Linked DNA regions of Homo sapiens: region 2 is linked to region 1. Evidence: fine-mapped expression QTL. Tissue or cell type: hypothalamus. Region 1 holds a variant in brackets; the other region holds the start of a gene. All regions are shown on one strand. Distances are between the middles of the regions.

Region 1 (8,103 bases):
TAGCTTCAGCATGTCCTGCAAGACTCATTGTCTCTCTGTGGAAACCTTCCCTGGAAAACACACACACACACACACACACACACACACACACACACACACACACACACAGAGAGAGAAAGAGAGAAAGAGAGACTGAGTTAAATTCTTCCCTTCACGTGTGAAAACAACCATCCTAGCAATTACTACCCTCAGATGGAAAGCGTCTGTAGATGCACCTGTCTTCCCCACCAGGCACCAAATCCTTGGAGTAGGACTGTGTTTGTTCATCACTCTATTTCCAACATTCTATCTAGTACATAGCTTTCAAAAGGTATTTGATAAATAAGTAAATGAATGAATGCACAATAACTTTTCAGAGAAAGAAATTTCCAAATCTTTGGGAAGCAATCAAGGACAGATTTGGACTAGTAGGGAAGGGAGGAATGCTTACATGTACTGGCTCTAGAAGTCTCTCTCCCTCAGGACAAGTCAGTGACCTTTCAATCAGAAAGAACATAACTTGCTAAGCATTCAAACAGATCCTCACATTGCAACTACCCAGGGTCTAGCAAACCACCTGGCAGATGGCCTAGGACTTGGGTTAATTGTCCATGGCCAATCAGGTGTGGACCTGAGACCACACAACCAACCCTGGCCACACCTATTTGCTAGCAGCTTTGCCAAGGCCCTCCAGTACTGGTCTTGAACTACATGTGGTTTTTCTTCCTCTATTTCACAGGTTCCACAATGCACACTACTAATTTTAGTTTAACTTAATGCTCATTAAATTAGGAGCCAAATCCAGCTCTTCACTCAGCCTCCTCTCAACTCCCAGCCCTAGAGGATGCCGCTTTGTTGGATGATAACCCGGATCTCCCTCCTAATTGCTGCATGAGTCCTAAGCACCTGTTCTTTATGCATTTCGTGAGACATTCTCCAATTAAAGCCTAGGAGACTGATGAAAAACAAAGCCCATCTTCAAGTAGAGAATTATACATTCAACAGCAATAGCAATACTAGGTCACAGGATGGGTCATTAAATCACTGAATATACACCTCCAGTGCAAAAAAAAAAAAAAAAAAGACACTCTTCTGAAACATTTATGGCTGAGATTTAAAACTACTGGAATTGAGACATTCAGAGGTAAGGGTCTCAGAACAGCTTTCCGCCTGGCTCTGAGGCCTCAGCTGAGAGCCAGGGAAAGTAGTTTTCATCACTCTCTAGGTAATACCCAGGAAAGAAATTTGTCTTAAGATGCTAGAGCAATCTGTGTGGCTTCAAGGTGAGGCTAGCAAAGAACATTTCAATGAGTATATTTACTTCCTCTTCTAAACTTTGAATAATAATTGTAATCTGAAGAGAAGAGGAAAGGCCTACTTAGCAGCAAAACAAAACTTTTGTCTTCTTTTGTGTCTTCACTGTGTTTGCAATGTGGCATCAGTAAAATGGCCTTAATGCTCAGCATGGCTCCCATTCAAATTGAGACAGCAATTCTGCACTCTCATTAGGTGAAAAGTTGGCCCCCTAGATTAAGCTACATGACATCCATATTTCTAGTCATCATTTCCCTATCACCACAACCACCTGGCAGTGCTCTACCATCCCTTTTGCCTTGGCACAGTGTGCTTTTGTCTTTTCACTAGCTAACACATGTAAGTACAAAATTTATTTGCTTTAAGATGCAGGACAAGAGAAGGTAAATTCAAGCAATACCATTGATGGCTAGATATCTGGCAAAGCCCTCCAGGGCTAGAGTGTGCCAAAGACAGACAAGCTTCTGTAGGAGGAAACAAAAGGAACTTCAGACCTCTGACTGTAAGCCAAAAGCTTCTGCTGCCCCACAGTAATCCCACCTGATATGCATGGATGAACCAGGGCTAAAATTAGTGTGAAAATGACAAAGAAACCAACAAAAGAGGAGTGTTTCATTTTCTTACCCAGGTCTTGTTCAGAATATGCAATGGGAGAGCCTGGTTGGGAGCAGTCCAAGCCCTGGCTCCCCACACTGGTTGGTCATGAGGACACCAGTAAAGCTCCTAAGGACCTTTGGTTGTATGAGTCCTTCCTTTTCTCTTCTCCATATGACTTTTAAGACCCCAAAAAGTCACAGATACTAAATAGGGTTGCGGTACCACTCATCCTTATTTGTGGATCTTGGGAGGAAGATCTTTCAAGCCATTTCCTGCCTTAAAATTGGAGATCTCTAGCCATTCTTGAATACTCCAAACCAGACACAGGTCAAGTGCCTACTCATGGAAGCTTCCTTTTCCAGTGAGAGCAAAATGGAAGACTGGTGTAATGAGCTGAGCAATGTAAACCTCCACAAATGACTCAACCCTGGAAAGCCAAAGACAATTCAGGCAGAGGCTTTTTTTTTCACCCCCAGTCCAATTAACCATAAAATTACTTCAAATCTCCATTTCACTTTCTACTCAGATATGTGCTCTTTTTGCTCAAGGTTTCAGGGAGGGAGGGTCAGTTTTCTCACATTATTAGGCTGTGCCCTTTGGACGTCAGAATTTCCAGAGGTGAGAAATGACAACTGTTCCCTTATCCTCAAATAATCCCTGCATCCCACATTTCTTCCTCATACTCAGCAGAGTACAAGACATGCAATTTGCTCCTTCAGTCAACCAGGAAAATATTCTGTGGCTGCCTAGAAAGTGGGGCATGGGGAGGTGATATTCATCGAGCACTAACAAAATGCCAATCACCGTGCTGGTACCTTTACTCCTTTACCTTACTAAATCTCACAACAATGCCAAAAAATAAGACTTATTGCCCCACTTTACAGATGAGAAAATTGTATTCGAGTGTCCCATCTCCCTCCCACTGACAGCGGTGGAACTGGATGGTGGTCTGAAGCAGCCAGTGCTGGGGGTGAAGAGACCTCCTCCTGGATGGCTTACAAATTGTACTGTGATTTCCAAAACTCACTTAAACTCCCTGTTGGAGCTATTAATATTATCAGTTCTCCTAAATTGGAATAATTTTGTCTGTTCATCCTCTCCCCCTTTCCTGTTTCCTTGTCCTGTGGTGCTGCTGAATTAGATAATGTCTACAAAGCTCTCTGAGTTCCTTGAAGGGAAGTTTTGATAAACACAAGTTATTAACCTTCATAGCACCTAGAGTTTTGAATGAAGAAGTTATAAAAATTATCATAAAGTCCTGCTGGGGCTTGATAATGAACAGAAGATTTACTAAATCTTCAAACACTTCCTTTTCTTCCCAAGAGCAAAGGTGAATCCTTCCAGCTAGAATAGGCTCTATTTCCAATGCTAGTCCCTGGCTCTTCTGTCTTCTGATGTAAGGGAAGGTCAAATGCCTCTTTCCAGAGCCTTCTGCAGTGGCTTCATGGAAATTCTGAACAGCAGGTGCCTGAGGCTTCTGAACAATGCAGCCACATCATTCTCTGGCTTTCATTCCCCAGGTGCAGCTGAAACGATAATGTGACAATGCCTGCCAGGAAAGAAGATGCCACTGCTGAGAAGTCAAGACCCAGAAATTCAGTATTCAAGAGGAGTCTCATTCCTCACCACCCTGGCTCTCCTCATACAGACAGTGTGATTATCGTGGGTCACAGAAAGACCTAGTTTTGTCCACCAAAGCAATACAGGCAAGTGTAAATCCAGCTGTGCCTCTCCTGAGGCTGTGCTGTGAGTGCAAGAGGGGAAGAGAAGGGAAGGGGAGAGCTAATGGAGATGCTCCACTGCCTAGGCTGGGTCTGGATTACTCAAATGCTGAGCCAGAAGCAGAAATGGAAGAGAAGGGTATGACTCAATGGCAAAGTCATCTCGCGATCGACGACCTCTACCACATTCCTTGCCTTAACCTTCAACTTTGCTTTGGGTTCACATTGTGCCAACACAGACAGTGGTTATTGGACATCTCCATACCCAGCCCAGTGCTCAGCAAGCCCAGTAATCAGGTACCAGTGGTGGCCACAGAAGAACCTGGCTACCTCCCCTGCCTTCTAGGTTCTGTCAAGCAGCTGCAAAAATCAACTGAAGGTGGGGGTGTGAAGGAGGGCACCTATCACCACATCAGACTAGATGGGTCTGACCTCCCAGCACTAACTGCCAAAAACCTTGTTTGTATAGAACCTGTCTGCCCTTTGGGAAGAATGGCAAAGTGCAATTTTTGAGACTAGTAGGTGAATTCCAGAACACCAGAATGGAGAATCCTGAGAAAACAGAAAGAACAAAGATGCTTCCTGCCTGTGGAAAACAAGAAACTTCTCTGGAGAAAGAGGAGGTCTGAACTGAGGAGGCTGCACTCTTTTCTGAAGCATTTGTTTGAGGTTGGCAGAGCTGACCACTTTTGAGAGCAATGTTTGTAAATGCCCCCAACCGCCTCTCAGAGCAACTTGGCCTACATTCCTTGAGAGAGAGGAAGCTATAAAAAATATCTAAGCTGGTCATGGTGGTTTACACCTGTAATCCCAGAGCTTTTGGAGGCCAAGGTGGGAGAATCACTTGAGCTCAGTGAAACCCCTTCTCTACAAAATATACAAAAATCAGCCAGGCAAGGTGTGTGCCTATGGTCCCAGCTACTCAGGAGGCTGAGGCAGGACTATTGCTTGAATCCAGAAGGCAGAGGTTGCAGTGAGCCAAGACTGCACCACTGCACTCCAGCCAGGACACTCGAGTGAGACCCTGTTTCAAAAAAAATTCTAAAGATCTAAGTCTTTCCCTTTGGGAGCTACAAAACTTAAGGGAAGCAAATCCTTTGCCAATTAGATACCAACTAGACCTCCCATAGTTTCCTAAATGGGGTCCCCAGGCCCTGTCACAGAGATTTTCCCATAGAGTGGCTATAGGAAAGCTTTATTAGTCTCCAACAAAAATGCAGGTGCTTTAGAGGTAGAAGGAAATTGGGAGAGCCTAGCCATTTTACCTGAGAAGGCTGCACAGTCAAAGATCATTGTTGCTAACCTTATGTTCTGCTAACATGGGTTGTGCTATGTGACTTCAAACACAAACAACTTATTTTCACTACGTTTATGATTATTATTCATCCTTGCCTAGGCATGCTAAATTCTAAGAATTTTGGAATCACACAGATGTGATTTCAGTGCTTATCTGGCCTTTAGCAAGGTGATTTGCCTCAGTTT[C/T]TTCATCCATAAAATGAGGGGTAGTAATAGCACCTATTTATAGGGACATTGTGAAGTTTGGCTTTGTTAATTACACATAAACACCCCAACACAGTGCCTGACACATGGCAAGCACTCAATAAAGGGTAGTAGCTCTAATTAGTGACCAAGCAATAAGTGAGACAATACTAACAGGATGAAAGAAACCTGGAGGTGGAAGAGAGATGGAAAGCTGAGACTTTCCTTCTCTGGGTGAGGAGGGCAGCCCTTTAAGGTAGAAAAAAAGGATGACCCAAAGTCACAAAATATACCAGCCTAGCTATGTGGAAGATGAGCCAGGCCAGGACAGAGAGGGTTAAGAAGGAGAAGAGGCAAGGCTGCCTTGCAAAAAGACCTTGAACTTCAGGCAGAAGGCTTGGACCAGCTACAGTGGGTCATGGGAGGCCCCTGCTGGTGTCCAGGCTTTGGACCACCTGTATTCGCCAATGGACAATGATGCACAGCCTGGGATAGAAGGGCTCACTTCTGTGGCACCACCCCTCCATCCTCTCTTTGGCCCTCCTCACAGCAGATGGAGCCCTTAGAACACTGCCTACCTGAGCTACAACTCATCCAGGCACAGGAGGACCCCAGGAGGCTGTGAGAGTCCAAAGCCGCAAGGTCTGCTCCTAGCAGAAGTCTCACACATCTGAAGACCCTCAAGTTGCAGTTTGTTCCAAAAAGGCTTGCCAAAATGCCTTTTCTGAAACACCAGCCCAGAGAGTGGGCCTATGCACTTCTTCATTAACTACACAGGGTACCTTGAAACCCCCACTCCTGGAAAAGAAGCCCATTTTTCTCAACCTCCAATAAAGAAAACCTTCACATATTCAGAGAAATGTCCTGCAGATGAGGGCGCTCAGGAGGGGGCCGCCTTGATTAAAGCAGGTTGTTCTGCCAAGAAGTCTTGAATATGCTCTCTTAGTTTGGGGCTGTTAGTGCAGCACGGAGGCAGCAGGCGACATGAATTGCCTTTTATCTAATTGGAAAACTCCCACCGAGTTTAGAAGTACTCATTTAGACAGGCAGATCAATAAAAGAAATGGGAAGCGGAAGGCCGTGGAGATGTTATGGAGACAAGCTGGTCCTCTATACATCTGCTTAATAAAGATTAACTCATCTTGGTTGTAGTAGAAACCCAGAACACCCTCTTGGCTCCAGGTTGTAAGCAGGTTCCATTTGTTTTTAATGTGCAGACATTTCTCAGGAGGGATGGGAGAGAGACCCTTCCTTTGTCTTCTCTTTATCTGGATTCAAGCGCTCCAGTGGGAGGGAGGGCAAAGGAGGGAAGAGGGGCCTTAGAAATAGACTGTTTCTAGCATCTTCCCAAAATGATATTCCTTTGACCCAGACAAAAGTGAAAGGGAACAAAACGTAGTGATCCACAGAAAAAGGGCAGAAAATGGGAGAGAGGCACCTGAGGAAAGATGTAATTCTCCCTTGTCATGTCATATCATTTTACTGTGTATAAGTCACATTACACAATAGCAAACATTTCACGAGCTCCTGTTTTAAAAACTCCATCGAAATCCTTTTTTCTCCCTATCTCTCTTGTTCATCATTGAGTTAGGGGCTCTAAAATCTTTTCCATATTCCCACATCACGACCCTCATAAGCTTTATCCATCCTTGTCCTTGCCATTGTCCCAGCTCTCTCCCAACCCCGCATTCTACACACAGGAGGCTTAAACAGCTGAGCCCATCTCTCATTTCAAACATAAGCTTTTGTTCCAGGCCACAGCATCAAAGCTGATTCCCTTCAAAAGAAAAATACCCTCTGTGGCTATAGGTCCAGAAATAGAAGTGGTGTGTGCCTGTGTGTGTGGGTGTGCCTACGTGTGCATGTACGTGAGGCAGGCTGAGGGGGGTTCATTTACACTGGAGAAATTTTGAGAAACCTGGGAACCCTGTGTTTGACTTCTGTGTCCCTTCTTTGAGTCCTGAAGAAATTCCTCTCTTGGCAAGGGCTGCAGGAGGGAAACTGCTGGCACTCAGCTTTAATAAAGGCCTTTTCTCTTGAACAGTACTATGGCGAAGGCACAGACTCATACCTGGGCCATGGGTCGGTTGCCATGGAAATGACTGCAGAATCACAAATAAGACAGTATTATGTTTTCTCAGCAGGGCCAGATACAAGCTAGAAACTAGAGGGAGAAAAAGGAAGAGGAGGAAGAAACAGAGTCAGAGGCAGCACCAGAAAGAGAGAGACGGCAAGAAAAACAATAGAAATACCTTGTATAAATAGAGGGCCAGAAAGGAAACACAAATAAAAGAATTGGGTATTGTTTGGAAGAAAGCAAATTTCAGACCGTGTGAGATGAGAGAAGGGAACAAAGTGTTGTTTTCTTTGAGGCACTTCCTTCATTTTCAAAGAGGGAAGGAGGGAAACCCATTCCAAAGGGACTCCTGCGCACCTCCCAGCCTTCTACTGGCTTTTTTCTCTCCTATCTTATTGGGTAATGGTGCCAAAAGCCTGTGGTGGAAGGGTTGGGAATGGGAAGAATACAGAGTGGTGCAGGAAGCAAGAAAGGGTAGGAGGCAAGCCAAGCCCCAGGATGCAGAAAGGCTGTGCTCTGATTCTCAGCAGAAACTTGTAGCCTTTTGGTCCCTGGCTCCCTAGCAAGTTTTATGCCAAACTTTTGCCCTTCTAAAAGCCATAAGCCCTTGAGGATCACTGGAACTGCTCTCAGCACCCTTATTAATATTTTTCTCCCGAGTTGAATGTGGCTGGAGTACGAGTGGCCACATTGTCTTCCTAAGATCTTTTTGTTGTTGTTGTTCATTCAAAGCTTCATTGGTTTCTTTATTGCAGAAAAAAAGTCTGATAACCAAGACCTAGATTGAGACTTCAGAAACAAATACAAAGTACAAAGCTTATTTCAGCTAAACTATGAGGCTTTACATACAGTAAAGAATACTAAAGTTCTGCCCTTTCCATACCATGTTTTTAATGGATGTGTATATGTAGATTTCAATGTGCTCAATGCTTTGGA
Region 2 (8,103 bases), 960 kb after region 1:
ACTTTAGGAGGTCGAGGTGGGTGGATCACGAGGTCAGGAGTCCAAGATCAGCCTGGCCAAGATGATGAAACCCCATCTCTACTAAAAAGACAAAAATTAGCCAGGCACAGTGGCAGGTGCTTGTAATCCCAGCTACTCGGGAGGCTGAGGCAGGAGAATCACTTGAACCCGGGGGGCGGAGGTTGCAGTGAGCCAGGATCGCACCACTGCACTCCAGTCTGGGTGACACAGTGAGATTCCGTCTCAAAAAAGAAAGAAAGAAAGAAAGAAAGGAATAGAAAGAGGGGCACAGAGTAGGATTTTTAAGGCTTCTAACTTAGGATGTTTTACAAAACGGAATCTCTTCCTGAAGAGAAAAGAGTGATTTTATTTACTTCAACTCAGGCTCTGCAGCTGGAACATGGAGACACATCTTGGCTACCAAACCTCTGACAGACCCCAGGCAGATTTTGGAGAAGGTGGTAGGGATGGAGGGAACCACCTTGCCTTGGGTTCCTGAGATACAGCCACCAGCATGAGCCACCCTAAATCAGCCATGACACAGAGGCAGGCCCTGTGGTTCCGGGGAGTTAGAGGCCACAGCCAGGCAAGGCCTGGGGTTAACAGTGCCTGTGAGTCAGTGTTCTCTGTCCAGGTTAGAGCTCAACAGTCATTAAGGATTTGATGAAGTGCTCCGGCCTACTTTTTGCTTGGCCTATGAGAAAAATGAGTTTTTCGTGGAAGATGGTAATTGTGGAGAGAACCCAAAGAAAGCTAATGACATGGACCTAGAGTAGGCTGGTGACGAGAAACCTATGATGCACCTGAGGCTGCACACCAGTAGCACAGCCCTTTTCTACAAGAGCACACATCCAAACCTCCTCGCCTCCCTCTGGCAGTCGGAACCCACCATTGCTATTCCAGTGATCAATTGAGGCATTTCTCCTTAATCACTGAAACAGAGAACTGCAACTCAGAACAGCAGAGTAACATTTATCCATGTCCTGCCACAGCGCACTATCTACCTTCATATCGACCTCCAGCCTTCAGGTGCCAGGTAGAATGTATGTGCCTGCCACCCATCTTTTCCTCTCTATCCATAAACAGAGTTTAAACACGTAAACATCACTTTTTTTTGACACAAGAGTCTTGTTCTGTCACCCAGGCTGGAGTGCAGTGGTAAGATCACAGCTCACTGCAGCCTTGACTTTCTGGGCTCAAGTGATCCTCCAGCCTCAGCCTCCTGAGTAGCTGAAACTAGAAAGGCACGCCACCACACCCGGCTAATTTTTTAATGTTTTTGTACAGATGAGATCTCATTATATTGCCCAGGCTGGTCTTGAACTCTTGGACTCAAGAGATCCTCCCACCTTGGCATCCCAAAGTGCTGGGATTATAGGCATGAGCCATCATGCCAAGCCATAAACATCATTGAGAAAAAATACACCATACAATATCTCCACCAAAAATTACTTTTTCAGTTATATCTTCCATTGAAACAATTAAGTAACATTCACGTTTATTAATAAAATTCTTAGCTTTTTCCTGCCCTATATGAGATCTCAAAATGTTAAGATGGTGGCCGGGCATGGTGGTTCAAATCCCAGACTGTAATCTCAGCATTTTGGGAGGCCAAGGTAGGTGGATCACTTGAGGTTAGAAGTTCGAGACCAGCCTGGCCAACATGGTGAAACCCCATCTCTACTAAAAATACAAAAATTAGCTGGGTGTGGTGGCACATGCCCGTAATCCCAGCTACTCAGGAGGCTGAGATACAAGAATTGCTTGCACCCTGGAGGCAGAGGTTGCAGCGAGCTGAGATCGTGCCACTGCATTCCAGTCTGGGTGACAAAGTGAAACTGTGTCTCAAAAAAAACAGATAGATAGACAGATAGATAGATAGTATTTTACTGACTTTCAACTAAGTGATTGTTACAAGACCTGTAAAGGGTTTTGAAGAGAAGCTATGACCATCCTAACCTTTTGGGGCCACCATGATGAAAGAGAAAACCCATGCCTTTTGGTCACATTGAGTAAAATGTTCTTCCCCTCTTCCCTGTAACACTTGTTCAAATTCATCTGTATATTAAAGAAATCAGAGGTTCTAGTATTCTCTAGGTTTAAAAATAAAATGATTTCCTCTTGATTATGTGACCTAAATTTGGTTCAGAACATATTTGCCAAAAGCTATACAAAAAAAGAATTAGATAAGTCATTTTTAGCTTAAAAAATGATGCTTTGTATGAACCAGCCCTCATTTTCAACATTCTGGAATTTTATTAATCTCATTCCCTGCTTCTGTTTTAAAACTGTTTTTTTTTAATTGCCAGAACAAACATTCACAAAACTGATACTTTAAATAAAACTGTAACTAAGCATAGAAGTATAGAAGTAACCCAGCTTTTCCCCTCTTTGGGGTTTTGTGTTATTTTATTGCTCATATAAATACAATATACACGTGGCTCTGTCTCGGTGGAAATCTGAAAAAACAGATCTTGCAGTCCAGAAACTGAAAACAAAGTTTAAAAACAAAAACCTTCTACCTCAAGAGTCTAGGATATGCCATGAATCTATTTTTGTAGTAATTTTAAAAAACACAATATATTCCTTTTAAAATCTTTCTCAGAGAAAGTAGAAACTGGGCTTTGAGAGGGCTCTTTTAGCCAAACCCTGTGAGGACCCACCAAGCTAGAGCCTCTTTATCTAGTGACAGGGAATCTAACCATTCTTAAAACTTGTGGGTCCTCGGAGTGAGAACCCATAGGATAGAGAACTGCAATTTGTGGCTATTTTTAGCCAGCAATCACAGAGAGAACTTAAGCAGCCATTAAAAGGAGGCAGTGAACTGTGTTAAATTCTAGATGAAAGAGAGAAACAGCGGAGAGGGCCAATCCTGATGACTCACGGTGCACGAGTTCCCCTTTAAGCAGGGATGTGTCCTTGCAAGGAGTCCCTGCCCTTCCCTGGCCTCAATTTCATCCTCTTTAAAAGGAACTAGTCAGCTGGGTGCAATGGCTCACGACTGTAATCCCAGAACTCTGGGAGGCGAGGTGGGAGGATCACTTGAGTCCGGGAGTTCGAGATCAGCCTGGGCAACGTGGCGAAACTCTGTCTCTACAGAAAATACCAAAAAATTAGCTAGGTGTGGTGGCGCGCGCCTATAATCCCAGCTACTCAGGAGGCTGAGGTGGAGGATCACCTGAGCCTGAGGAGGTCAAGGCTGCAGTGAGCCATGATAGCGCCTCTGCACTCCAGCCTGGGCGACTGTGAGACCCTGTCTCAACAAAAAATAAAAATAAAAGGTACTTGTCGGCTCCTCAGGTCTTCTGCTTTATTATCGCAAGTCACCGCTCACTTGAGAAAAAAGGCGACTTTAATGGTATATACAGAAAAGAGGCGTCTGCCCTCAAATAACAGAGAACATTTATCAGGCACTTTGTTGGGTGCCTGGCGCTGTACTGCGTTCTGTGTACGTATTCTCTACCTTAGAGTTACCCTTCAAGAAAGGCATTTTCATCTCTAGTTGAGATGAAGAAGGAGACAGGACTTGGAGGAGACCTTTGGCAGGGCTGGATGGGAGGGAGCCAGGTCTAGAACTGGAGGGGCAACGCGGCCCCGGGCGCAGGGGCGGGGCTAGGGCCTGGAGGCTGGGTCAGGGGCGGGGCCGGGGCCTGGGACGGGGCGAGGCGGACTTGCCTTGAAGTAAGCGAACTGCAGGAACTTGTAGGGCTCGCGGCGCTGGAAGTCCGCCAGCACCTCGCGGCTGGGCTGGGACTGGCGGAAGGCTGGCAGGCCCTGCTTGCAGCGCTTGAGGCAGTGCGCGCGGCGCAGCAGGCCCCCGAAGAGGCGCAGCTCGGGATAGCTGGCGAGGCCGGCGGCGGGCTCGGGCTGCGGCGCGGCGCTGCAGTTGCGGTGGCAGAAGGCCTCGCTGTCGCGCAGCAAGCGGTGCAGCCGCAGGCTGATCTCCAGGTAGCCCACGCTCTCGGCCCAGTGCTCGCCGCTGTACTTGTCCAGCGCGTGCCGGTAGGCCGACTCGAGCGGCATCAGCTCGTCCCGTGGGAAGCTGCGGAAGCTGTAGCGTTCGTATTGGGCGCGCCCGGCGCGCAGCGCGCAGGCCACGCACAGCAGCGCTAGCAGCGCCGCGGCCCCCCGGCGCCCCGGCTCCATCGCGCCCGGCGAAAGGAAGGAAGGAAGGGACGAAGGAAGGGAAAAGGGGAGGGAGAAGGAAAGGAAAGAGGACGGTGCGACGCGGCGGGCCCAGTGCTTTCGGGGCGGGGACGCCAGCCTCCGGCCCGCCCCGTCCGGCCGCCCCTCCCCACCCAGCCGGGGGATCTGGGCGCCAGCTGCCAGCACCTAGAGGGTGCCCGGGAAAGGCGCGCTGCGCACTGGTTCACGCAGGCTGATGCGCATGATGGGACTCTGCCGCTCATTCACTTGGAGACCCGCCTGCAAGGCCGACGCGGCCCTAATAGATTATATACATCGGCCCTACGGTCTATATAATCTACGATCTTTATATTCGTTTGGAGGTTTGTGAAAACGAAGATTCCTGGGCTGTGCCCCCAGAGTTTCTGATTCAGAAAGTCTGGGGTGGAGGTCTGACGATTTGTGTGTTTAACCAGCACCCTGATGAGGCTAATGCTGCGGGCCCAAGGGCCGCACTTTTAATAGCACTGCCCAACCTTAAATTTTAGTGAGAGAAAAAGACAGTGCAAAAATAAAATTAATAAGGATGTCAGCACTTTGTAAACTGTATAGCTAGTCAGGTTGAAGATGTGCACACCTTATGAATCTGCAACACCATTCGGTGGAATATGCTGGAGAAGCTTGCGCGTGTGCATCAAAAAATATGGATGGAATGTTAATGGCAGCACTTTTAAAAAATCTTTAAACTTTTAAATCTTGAAATAATTTACAAGAAAGCTGCAAAAACAGTACAAAAAGTTCCTATATACCCTTCATCAAGATTCACAAGTTGCTAACGTTATACCACATTTCTATCTTTACATTTTTTTCTGACTCATTTGAGATAGGTTGCATGTATCAGGCCCACTGTCCGTTAGTCTTTTTTTTTTCTTTTTTTTTTTCCTTTTTTTTTTTTTGAGACGGAGTCTCGCCCTGTCACCCAGGCTGGAGTGCAGTGGCGCGATCTCGGCTCACTGCAACCTCCGCCTCCCGGGTTCAAGCAATTCTCCCTGCCTTAGCCTCCCGAGTAGCTGGGATCATAGGCACACACCACCATACCTGGCTAATTTTTCTATTTTTTACTAGAGATGAGGTTTTGCCATGTTGGCCAGGCTGTTCTTGAACTCCTGACCTTAGGTGATCTACCTGCCTCTGCCTCCCAAAGTGCTGGGATTACAGGCGTGAGCCACCGTGCCCAACCCCTTAGTCTTTCAGTATGTATGTCCTAAGAATGAAACTACCAGACAATCAAATTTAGGAAATTTAATACTGATAGAAGACTTTAATCATGTTCCATTTCCGGTTATGTCAGCTGTTCCAATTATGTCTTTCATGGCACTTTTTTCTCTTAGGATGCAGTCCATCCGTGATCACTGTTACATCTAGTCTATTTCATATCCTTTAAACTGGTTCCTCGGCTTTTCTTGTCATGCCGTTGTCATTTTTGAAAAATATAGGCCAAAACAGCAATGAGATACCACTACAAAATCCAAAACACTGACAACGTCACATGCTGACAAGGATGTGGAGCAACAGGAACTCTCATTCATTGATAGTGGCAATGCAAAATGGTACATACAGTTTAGAAGACAGTTGGGCCGTTTCTTACAAAACTAGGCATACTCTACTCATACAATCCAGAAATTGCACTTCTTGGTATTTACCCAAATGGGTTAAAACTTATGCACACACCTGCGAATGGATGTTTGTAGCAACTTTATTCACAATTACCATAACTTGGAATCAACCAAGATGTCCTTCAGTGGGTAAGTGGATACATAAACTGTGGTATATACACACAATGGAATTTTATTCCAAGCCAAAAAGAAATGAGCTATCAAGCCATGAAAAGACATGGAGAAGTCTTAAATGCATATTACTGGTTGAAAGAAGCCAAACTGAAAAGGCTACATACTGTGTGATTCCAGCCAAATGACATTCTGGAAAAGGCAAAACTATGGAGACAGTAAAAGGATCAGTGGTTGCTGAGAATTATGGAAAGGGAGGAATGAATGGGTAGAGGACAGGATTATTGGAGCAGTGAAACTATTCTATATGATAGTATAATGGTGGATATATGCTATACATTTGTTAAAATCCATAATATGTACAACACTAAGAGTGAGCCCTAATGTAAACCGGACTTTGGGTGATAACGATGTGTTGATGTAGGTTCATTGATTGTAACAAATGTACCATTCTAGTGCAAGACATTGACAGTGGGGGAGCTTGCGCATGTTGTAGGGTCATGGAGTATATTTGAACTCTGTAGTTTCCGCTCAGTTTCGCTATGAATCTAAAACCACTCTAAAAAATAAAGTCTTTTTTTTGTTTTTTGTTTTGTTTTGAGATGGAGTCTCGCTCTGCTGCAGAGGCTGGAGTGCAATGGCATGATCTCAGCTCACTGCAATCTCCACCTCCAGGGTTCAAGCGATTCTCCTGCCTCAGCCTCCTGAGTAGCTAAGATTACAGGCCCGTGCCACCATGCCAGGCTAATGTTTGTATTTTTAGTAGAGACTGGTTTCACCGTATTGGTCAGTCTGGTCTCAAACTCCTGACCTCATGATCCACCTGCCTCGGCCTCCTAAAGTGCTGGGATTACAGGCATGAGCCACCGCGCCTGGCCTTTTTTTTTTTTTTTTTTTAAAGAACACAGGCCAGTTAACTTTATAAAAAGTTCCTCATTTGAGGTTTTCCTGATGTTTCCTCATGACTAAATTCAGATTAAGCTCATGACTAAATTCAGATTAAGCTCATGACTAAATTCAGATTAAGCTCTTTGGCTAGAATGCCACAGAAGCAATGTGCCATCCGTCTCAGGTGTAAAATCTAAATAACACAATGCCCACCCCTTGTCTGTGTTAATTTTGATCACTTTATTAAGGTGATGTCTGTTTTCCCTACTTCATTTGTTTTCTTTTGTAATTAACAAGTGTCTACAGTAAGGTAACGCAACATTGTTCTTAATGGCAGAAAGCAGGAATAACCTGTCCATAAACAGAAGAGTAGATTTAAAAAAAAATGAGAGTAAATGCATATAGAAGAATATATTATAGCAGGGAAAATGAAAGAATTAGAGCTACAAATAACAGTTCAATCTGGGGGCGGGGGGGAACCATTGAGAATGATTCCATTTGCCTAAAGTTTTTTTGTTTGTTTGTTTTTTGTTTTTTGTTTTTTTTTTTTTGAGACAGAGTCTCGCTCTGTCGCCCAGGCTGGAGTGCAGTGGCGCCATCTTGGCTCACTGCAACCTCTACCGCCCGGGTTCAAGCGATTCTCCTGCCTCAGCTTCCCGAGTAGCTGGGATTACAGGCACCTGCCACCACACCCAGCTAATTTTTTTTTTTTTTTTTTTAAGACTGAGTCTCACTCTGTCGCCCAGGCTGGAGTACAGTGGTGCGATCTCGGCTCACTGCAACCTCTGCCTCCCAGTTTCAAGCAATTCTCCTGCCTCAGCCTCCTGAGTAGCTGGGATTACGGGCGCCCGCCACCACAGCTGGCTAATATTTTGTATTTTTAGTAGAGATGGGGTTTTACCATGTTGGTCAGGCTGGTCTCAAACTCCTGACCTCAAGTGATCCACCCATCTCGGCCTCCCAAAGTGCTGGGATTACATGCGTGAGCCACTGCACCCGGCCTGCACCTGGCTAATTTTTGTAGTTTTTAGTATAGACAGGGTTTCACCATCTTGGCTAGGCTGGTCTTGAACTCCTGACCTTGTGATCCATCCACCTCGGCCTCCCAAAGTGCTGGGATTACAGGTGTGAGCCACCACGCCCGACCCTAAAGTTTTAAAATATGGAAAAACACACAATGTATTATTTAGGAGTAAAAATAATATAGTCCTACCTTATACAGGGTAAAACTATATTGAAAAGAGAATGATAGGCTGGGCGCGGTGGCTCACACCTGTAATCCCAGCACTTTGGGAGGCCAAGA

Evidence for each region. PIP is the estimated chance that this variant, and not a neighbour inherited with it, causes the effect.
Region 2: CRTAP starts here. The variant in region 1 is fine-mapped to the expression of CRTAP in hypothalamus (GTEx, PIP 0.95).

The regions. Positions count from the first base shown.
Region 1 is chr3:34,066,690-34,074,792 of GRCh38, reverse strand. No RefSeq gene overlaps it. Among named protein-coding and RNA genes, the nearest start is that of LINC01811, 89 kb to the left of the region's middle. The variant C/T (reference allele first, on the strand shown) is at 5,094.
Region 2 is chr3:33,110,121-33,118,223 of GRCh38, reverse strand. CRTAP (cartilage associated protein) reads right to left here and starts at 4,210. Exons shown (of 7, transcript NM_006371.5): 1 at 3,676-4,210. The coding sequence starts at 4,146. RefSeq lists silencers at 1,776-1,924, 3,451-3,640, 4,081-4,380 and enhancers at 2,508-3,499, 6,380-6,589.